Regions from separate parts of the Homo sapiens genome. Here region 1 is linked to region 2. A link means that fine-mapping ties the variant in region 2 to the plasma level of a protein whose gene starts in the linked region. Region 2 holds a variant in brackets. A gene starts in the other region. All regions are shown on their forward strands.

Evidence for each region. A credible set is the group of variants that fine-mapping cannot tell apart. PIP is the chance, under the fine-mapping model, that this variant and not a neighbour inherited with it causes the effect. The UK Biobank Pharma Proteomics Project read protein levels with antibody pairs (Olink). The fine-mapping took linkage between variants from a reference panel, not from the people measured, so its PIPs are less certain.
Region 1: it holds the start of ENO3, and the variant in region 2 is the best candidate, but not a certain one, in a credible set for the plasma level of the ENO3 protein (UK Biobank, PIP 0.68).

Annotation. Positions count from the first base shown.
Region 1 is chr17:4,950,502-4,952,692 of GRCh38, forward strand. It overlaps ENO3 (enolase 3), which reads left to right and starts at 618. Exons shown (of 12, transcript NM_053013.4): 1 at 618-681; 2 at 1,327-1,413. The coding sequence starts at 1,329. RefSeq lists an enhancer at 1,150-1,884.
Region 2 is chr12:7,615,011-7,620,544 of GRCh38, forward strand. No RefSeq gene overlaps it. Among named protein-coding and RNA genes, the nearest start is that of APOBEC1, 48 kb to the right of the region's middle. The variant G/A (reference allele first, on the strand shown) is at 2,170.

The DNA.
Region 1 (2,191 bases), not on the chromosome of region 2:
GGGCGCCTTGCCAGCCGAAAGGGCCTGTCTAAATTCGTTTCCTGTCCCCTAACTCATCCCGGCGCTGGCTGGCCTGGAGAGGGTAGGATGGGGCGGCGCCGAGAATGGCCGTTATGAGGACCCTAAGAGGTGAGACCCTCTCGCCTTCTGGGGTGGGGGGTCCCGTCCTTTCCCCCACTGAGGACAGAGGCCCGCCCAGCGATCTGAGCATGTGTGGACGTCAATCTTGCAGCCCCTCTTCCAGGCCCCCTCCCCAGCCTTGCAGGGCTCAGGTTACCCCTGGCCTTTCCTAAAGGTCACTCATTCCTCTTGACGTTTGCAAAAGGGGAATGTAATCCTGGGGTGGGGGGAGACCCCTCATCTGTAGCCCCTCCCTTGCTCCTCCCAAAGGGTGGAATTAGAACAGGGACTGTTATTGGGAGACAGAAAGTGGGGGATAGTAGTTGACCTTTGGTAAGGGGGCAGGTGCCCAGGGCCAGAGGCTTCTGCTTCAGGCTGTAGTGGGCACTTGGCTGCCAGCCCAGTGTGAAGGGGGGAGGATGGAGAGAAAGAGAGGCGGGGCTGGCTGGGGACCGAGTGGCTCAGGGATAAATGCGCAGCCTGAGAGGGGGTGAGCTGACACTGTCCCAGCTGCCACCTAGACTCGGAGCTCCATCCAAACCTCCAGCGAAGACATCCCAGGTCGGGTGAATCTTCCAGCCCTGGGGGTGGAGGTAGTAAAGGGTGAGCATGGTATTGGCTTGGAGGAAGTGGGGGACATTTCTGCTTTTTTTCCTCCTGGGACTGGAGATGCTTGAAAAAGCTGGGGGAAGGGGCGGCTGGAGCAAGCAGATGGGACAAACTCTGGGAACACCGAAGGATCTAGGGAAAGGAGGCTGTGAGGAGGGCAGCAGGGATGGATAGAAAAGGGCAGCTAGAGCTGGAACCTGATAGGGAATTGGGGGCCCAAGGAGATTTCGGAGCAGGAAAATGAGAACCAGAAAGGATTTGAAGGCCACCAGCCATGGAGAACAGACTGCTTGACCAGAGGGGTGGAAGGAGAAGGCCTAAGTGGAGGCTTGGGGGAGGTGGGGGCTTGGTGAGCGGTGGCATCCCAGGAGCTATAGATAAGAGGCCCCTGGATTCTTAGGATGGGAGGGTGGAATAAGAGCTGTTCTGAGTGGGGGAGGGGGCTGCGCCTGCCTCTTTGGTCTGTGACCTTTTTGTAGGGTATTTTTAGCTCCAGCACCTGCCTTCTTGGAGTGGGGAAGAATCTTAAAGGGCAAGGGATTTCTGGTTCCTTAAGAGATCAACTGTCTACACTCACTCACACCTCCTGTCCTGCAGCCATGGCCATGCAGAAAATCTTTGCCCGGGAAATCTTGGACTCCAGGGGCAACCCCACGGTGGAGGTGGACCTGCACACGGCCAAGGGTAACACAAGGCCCATTGGATAGGCTCGCCTCCGAAGACCCCAACCCTTTGGCCTTTGCCCCCCAGTTCTGTGCCATATCCTCTCCTTTCTCTCGGGTTCCCTTTCCCAGACTTCTTCCCAAGCCCCCTTCTTCCAACGTGGAACCAGAGCTGGAAGCTAGGAGAAGCAGGAGTCTCTCTCTGCACTGCCTCCTGTCCCTGAGCTCAGAGAGGACACCTCAGCCCTTTGAGAGGTAGAGAGACTCCCTGTGAGGTCCTTTTTTTTGTTTTGTTTTGTTTTGAGATGGAGTCTCGCTCTGTGGCCCGGGCTGGAGTGCAGTGGTGCAATCTCAGCTCACTGCAACCTCTGCCTCCCGGGTTTAAGTGATTCTTGTGCCTCAGCCTCCCAAGTAGCTGGGATTACAGGCCTGTGCCATCACGCCCAGCTAATTTTTTTTTTTTTTTTTTGAGATGGAGTCTCACTCTGTCGCCCAGGCTGGAGTGCAGTGGCGCGATCTAGGCTCACTGCAAGCTCCGCCTCCCGGGTTCACGCCATTCTCCTGCCTCAGCCTCCCGAGTAGCTGGGACTACAGCTAATTTTTTGTATTTTTAGTAGAGATGGGGTTTCACGGTGTCAGCCAGGATTGTCTCGATCTCCTGATCTCGTGATCCGCCCGCCTTGGCCTCCCAAAGTGCTGGGATTACAGGCGTGAGCCACCGCGCCCGGCCTCAGCTAATTTTTGTATTTTTAGCAGAGACGGTTTCGCCATGTTAGCCAGGCTGGTCTTGAACTCCTGAT
Region 2 (5,534 bases):
GGGGAAAGAAAGAGAGAAAGAAAGAAAGGAGAAAAGAAAGAAAAAGAGAGAGAGAAAGAAAGAAAGGAGAAAAGAAAGAAAAAGAAGAGAGAGAAAGAAAGAAAAAGAAAGAAAGAAAGAAAGAAAGAAAGAAAGAAAGAAAGAAAAAGAAAAGAGGGAAGAAGGAAGGGAAGAAAAGTTGAACTCAGAGAAATAGAAAGTAGAAACGTGCTTCCTAGGAGTTAGGGGTTTGGGGAAATGGAGAGATATTGGTCAAAGTGTGCAAACTTGCAGTTATAAGATGAATACATTCTGGAGAGCTAATGTGCTACACAGGGATTACAGTTAACAACTTGTTCTATACTTGAAATTTGCTAAGAGAGGCCTTAAGTATTCTTATCATAAAAAAGGTAACTGTGTGAGATGATGGATATGTTAATCAGCTTGATAGAAACAGTCGTTTCACAATGTACTTCAAAACGTCAACAGTGTACACCTTGACTGTATAACATTTTGTCAATTACACCTCAATAAAGCTGAAAAACATACGTACTAAAATAAAAATAAAGACATCTTATTTACTATATGTTGTTGATTCATTAACATTGAACTCATGGCCAACTGCACTATTGCTCATGCCCAAACAAAGCTTATCTAATACATATTTTCTCTTTAAAGCATGTCACAGACTTCTCGCACTTAGGAACACTATATAGGACTCTAGTACTGGGCTTGGGGATCATTTTAAACAGCAAAGTCACCAATAAAGGCACTCTCTCAGCCCACATCTTTCTCCTGTGTTGGATGCTTCTTGCCCTCGAACATCAGACTCTAAGTTTTTCAGCTTTGGGACTTGGGCTGGCTCTCCTTGCTCCTCAGCTTGCAGACAGCCTATTGTGGGACCTGTGATCATTTAAGTTAATACTTAATAAACTCATATATATTTATATAATAAACTAATATACATATAAACTCATATGATAATATGAATTCATTCGTTTTGTGTTATATATTATTACATTAGTTTGTTAAACTCATATGAGTGTATTATATAAACTCATATATAATACTCATAAACTCATATATATATGAGATATATATATGTATCCTATTAGTTCTGTCCCTCTAGAGAACCCTGACTAATACAGGCACAAAAATGAAAAAAAGTATCACCCCTAATAAACCACGAAAAAGACACAAAGACACAGACATAAGTAAGAAGCCAGTTTCCCCTTGTTCACTCTCAGCTGGGAATGTGCCCACTGACAGACACAAATTTTTTGCTGCTCTGCACATTTTCATGAATGACCTTGAGTATTAATTTTGGAGTTACAATCTTAACAAGCACGCATATTTGCAAATGCAGTATCCATGAATAATGAGAATTGACTGTACATGTAACTAGCCCCAGAGTTCTAATCTGTCATCTGGGTTTTGGATACAGTATCTTCTTCTTTTTTTTGAGACAGAGTCTTCCTCTGTTGCCCACCTCAGCTCACTGCAACCTCCACTTCCTGGGTTCAAGTGATTCTCGTGCCTCAGCCTCCTGAGTAGCTGGGATTACAGATGCATGCCACCATGCCCGGCTAATTTTTGTATTTTTAGTAGAGTCAGGGTTTCAACATGTTGTTCAGGCTGGTCTGTCTGCCTCGGCCTCCCAAAGTGCTGGGATTACAGGCATAAGCCACTGTCCCCAGACTGGATACCTTATCTTATCATGCCATTAGGGCCAATTGTCATATTATCTCCAGGCAAAAGTGATCAAGCATCAAATGTGCACTCTTACATTCCAACTATGGAGTGATAACCAGACTGTTAGTCTGCACAGGCTGTAATATCTCTGATATTACAAGCTCTGAAGGCAACTGAGCATGGCAATTCTGGCCATGGTCTACAACAGCATAATAGAGATCATCTGGCTCAAAATTTAAATTTAGCTCCTATACTGTAATCACCTTGAGAGCAAAAATCCCTTTGTGTCCATCAAGACTTATTACTCAAGGCCTTGTATGGTGTCTAACAGACCAATTGTTTTAGTATAATATGACCATGACTGCAGAAGGCTTACTGTACCTCCTTTCATGGGTAATAGGTGTCCCATTTAATAGAATTATTCAAAACCTTAATAGGCACACTTCAAACTGAAATTCCACGAACTCTGGCAGCTACGTGAAAAAAGTTTTAAATGAC[G/A]TGGAAAGAAGACCACTGTTACTTCTCAAGTCATGCCATTCCTAACAGTTCACTTACTTCCCATGAGCCCCAGATTCCACAGTTGCTTGGCTTGTAAGGCCATTTATTTCCTGAAAACAATTTTCTTTTCTGAGAAGATACATTAGCTTCAATGCAATTTGTTATGGAATCATACTAAAAACAGGATAGATTCTGATTCCAAATTGTTGTTAATGAATTAAAAAGCTGAGGATTTCCTTGTATCTTTGAGTGACATTCTTCTTCAAGTCTCATCACCATCTTTATGTCTCTTTGCAAGATGTAGTAAATTATTTGGGAAAGTTTTGGATCAGAGAAAGTTGTTCTCAGGCTCATGTCATTTTCTTTTCTGTTTAGAAATTCATGAAAGACATTTTAAGAAACAGAATGAGAGCTATTCTTGGAATCATGGAATTTTAAAGCAGGAACATAAATTTTGACATGATTTTTATATAATATATTACATAATTATATAATTACTATTAACCTTATTTTATTTATTAATTTATTGATCAAGACTCAAAGAAGTTTTCAGCATGGTTCAAACTGTGGAGTGATGACGTATTGAGTCATTAGCAGCTAGTGAAAGCCTTTTAGCTGTTGGTGACCATTAATAAAAAATAACTACAAAGCATTACAAAAGAAAATAGAGTACGTCACATATAATCCTGGTAACTACAGTTTTATAAAACTTTTATTTGTACTTTATGAAAGTGTATGTGTGTGCCATACACATGTATGTGTGCATTTGTGTGTATGCACTGGGCCATGCTATTTCTTACTTTGGGCTGTCTCAGTCAAAAAAGTACAAAAATCACTGATCTAAATGAATTACTGATAACCCAAAGGAAATAAATAGTGTATTAGGAAATTGAACACAGGTTGCCTACTCCACATTTGGTACAATTTGTTCTGTACCAAAATTCAGAAAGATATGATAAAACTGTAATTTAAGGGATTTGGTATATTAGATTTATGAAGTCAAAATAGAGAAAACACTATAAAGTACAATAATCAAAATGATTCCATATTTCCAATAATTTTATAAATTATTAGTTTGAGTGTAGATTGAAGTATAAATTGGCAGCTCTTATCAAAATTTAATTATGCATACCTTTTGCCCAAAAGTTCTATTTCCAAGTACACTTTAAGAGATATGCTAATATGTAAGCATATATCCACAAGGATGCTTATTGCAGTATTTATTAAGCAAGGCAATAAAGGGAAGAAAAAGGAGACTCATGCAGTATCCATCAATAGGTGTCACTGTGGGACAACACAAAAATTGAAATTAGGCGTTAAGGTTTCATTCTGTAATAATCAATATTTTTGTTAGAACTCGGTTGAGGCCGGGTGCGGTGGCTCACGCCTGTAATCCCAGCACTTTGACAGGCCAAGGCAGGTGGATCACGAGGCCAGGAGTTCGAGACCAGCCTGGCCAACATGGTGAAACCCCGTCTCTACTAAAAATACAAAAATTAGCCGGGTGTGGTGGTGGGCACCTGTAACCCCAGCTATTCGAGAGGCTAAGGCAGGAGAATCGCTTGAATCCAGGAGGCAAAAGTTGCAGTGAGCCGAGATCGTGACACTGCACTCCAGCCTAGGTGACAAGAGCAAGACTCCATCTCAAAAAAAAAAAAAAAGAAGAAGAATTCGGTTGATAAAATATATGAATTAACTCTTTTGTGTATGCTTGTATCATTCTCTTACCAAAAAGACTTTGTGCAGACATGCCTATCTTAACCAGACCCATTTATGTATAACCTTGAACTGTGAAGGCCAGGATCTGTAGATAAAAGGATATATAAAATTAAGTTATTCCAAGTATTTAAATAGAACTCTGTTTTCTGTTGGCCACAGTGATCTATTTTACATGTAGGAATTTCTGCCACACAATATAAAATTGTTCAGGTATATATACTACCTTGCCTCAAAAAAATCCAAATTGACACAGATATATAATTTAAACCGTGATTTCAAAACTCAGACTATCACATGGTAAATATGAGTAGATGCTGAGGAAGAACAGGTGCTATATTTTTATAGCATCCATATGTTTTTTAGCCAACAGATACAACAGATATCTAAATCTAGAAACTTTTTTCTCCATGACTTCCCCAGGGTAAATAAGTATACAAGGAGTAATGGCAGATGAAAATGTCCTCCTCTAATTTTCTTTTTACTTTCCTAGTAGCATTTTGTCTTGACTACTAAAAGAATATATCTTCTAAATTTTTTTTTCTTTTTTAGTTTTTAATGACTGCCTTCCACAAGGAGCTGCCTCAAATACTGAAAGCTTGGTTTTTCCTCCAACTCTGAGCTTTGTTGATTCCTAGGGCCAGTGATTCCTGAAACGAACCTATTGCAGAGAGGGGCCTATTAAGTTTGATACTTAATCCTAGCATTAAAGTTACATAGGAAATATAGTTAGAGTTATATAAGGAATAATTCCCTATAACTTTTCTCTATCTCCCAAGAAAATAAAACAAGCCATATATAGTAAGTGTTCTCATTTCTCTACGTTAGCTTCACCTGCATCTGTAGTTGAAACAGTCTGGGCCTTTGAAACTTACAATCATTATAAAGATTTACATAATAAATAAGCCAGAGACAACTTTTTTTTACTCTCAGTCTTTAACTTAAAAGGTTGTTATTTAGCTTCACAAGGATATTATAATATAGATATTGATCAATTTTCAAAACGTTTTGATGGTACTAATTCAAGTACATTGTACTTGAAATTTGATTCACAAATTTCTGAGCATTGCCCATAGTATAAACCTGGCTGGGTATATATATTGAAGTTTCTTGATTTAAACGTATGAAAATTGTGTCAGTTTTTAAGCTTAATGAAGGTATGGCTCATGAGTATAATATATCTTCAAATGAGATTAACACACAAATTGACTTTTCTATGGTCATTGACCTTGATTAGTTATGCTTCTCTGGCTTTTGGTCAGCTGTGGAAATTATATAAGGGTTGCAGTTTAGGTCTTCATAGTTTTTGTATTCATAACTTCAGTAATATTGATGGCCTATGTTTTTTAGACTCAAAGAAGGATTTTAATAATTGATAATTTATTAATTTTAATAATATAATAATATTCATCCAATACATTAGTTAGCGGCTAAATATCTTAACCAACTGGCTTTACTCTACTTTTCCCTCCCTGGAAAAAAAAATGCAGAAGTGCCCCCCTACCGCTGCAGAATTGAAGCTGCTCCTTTAACTTTGCAAATTCAGTGTGAAATTTCACCTCAGGACTTGGTGAAAAGAGGTTTAATCTCTGTCTTTAGATTTATAGACTAATGCTCACTCAGCCATTTTTACCTTGCTTCTCCCTATG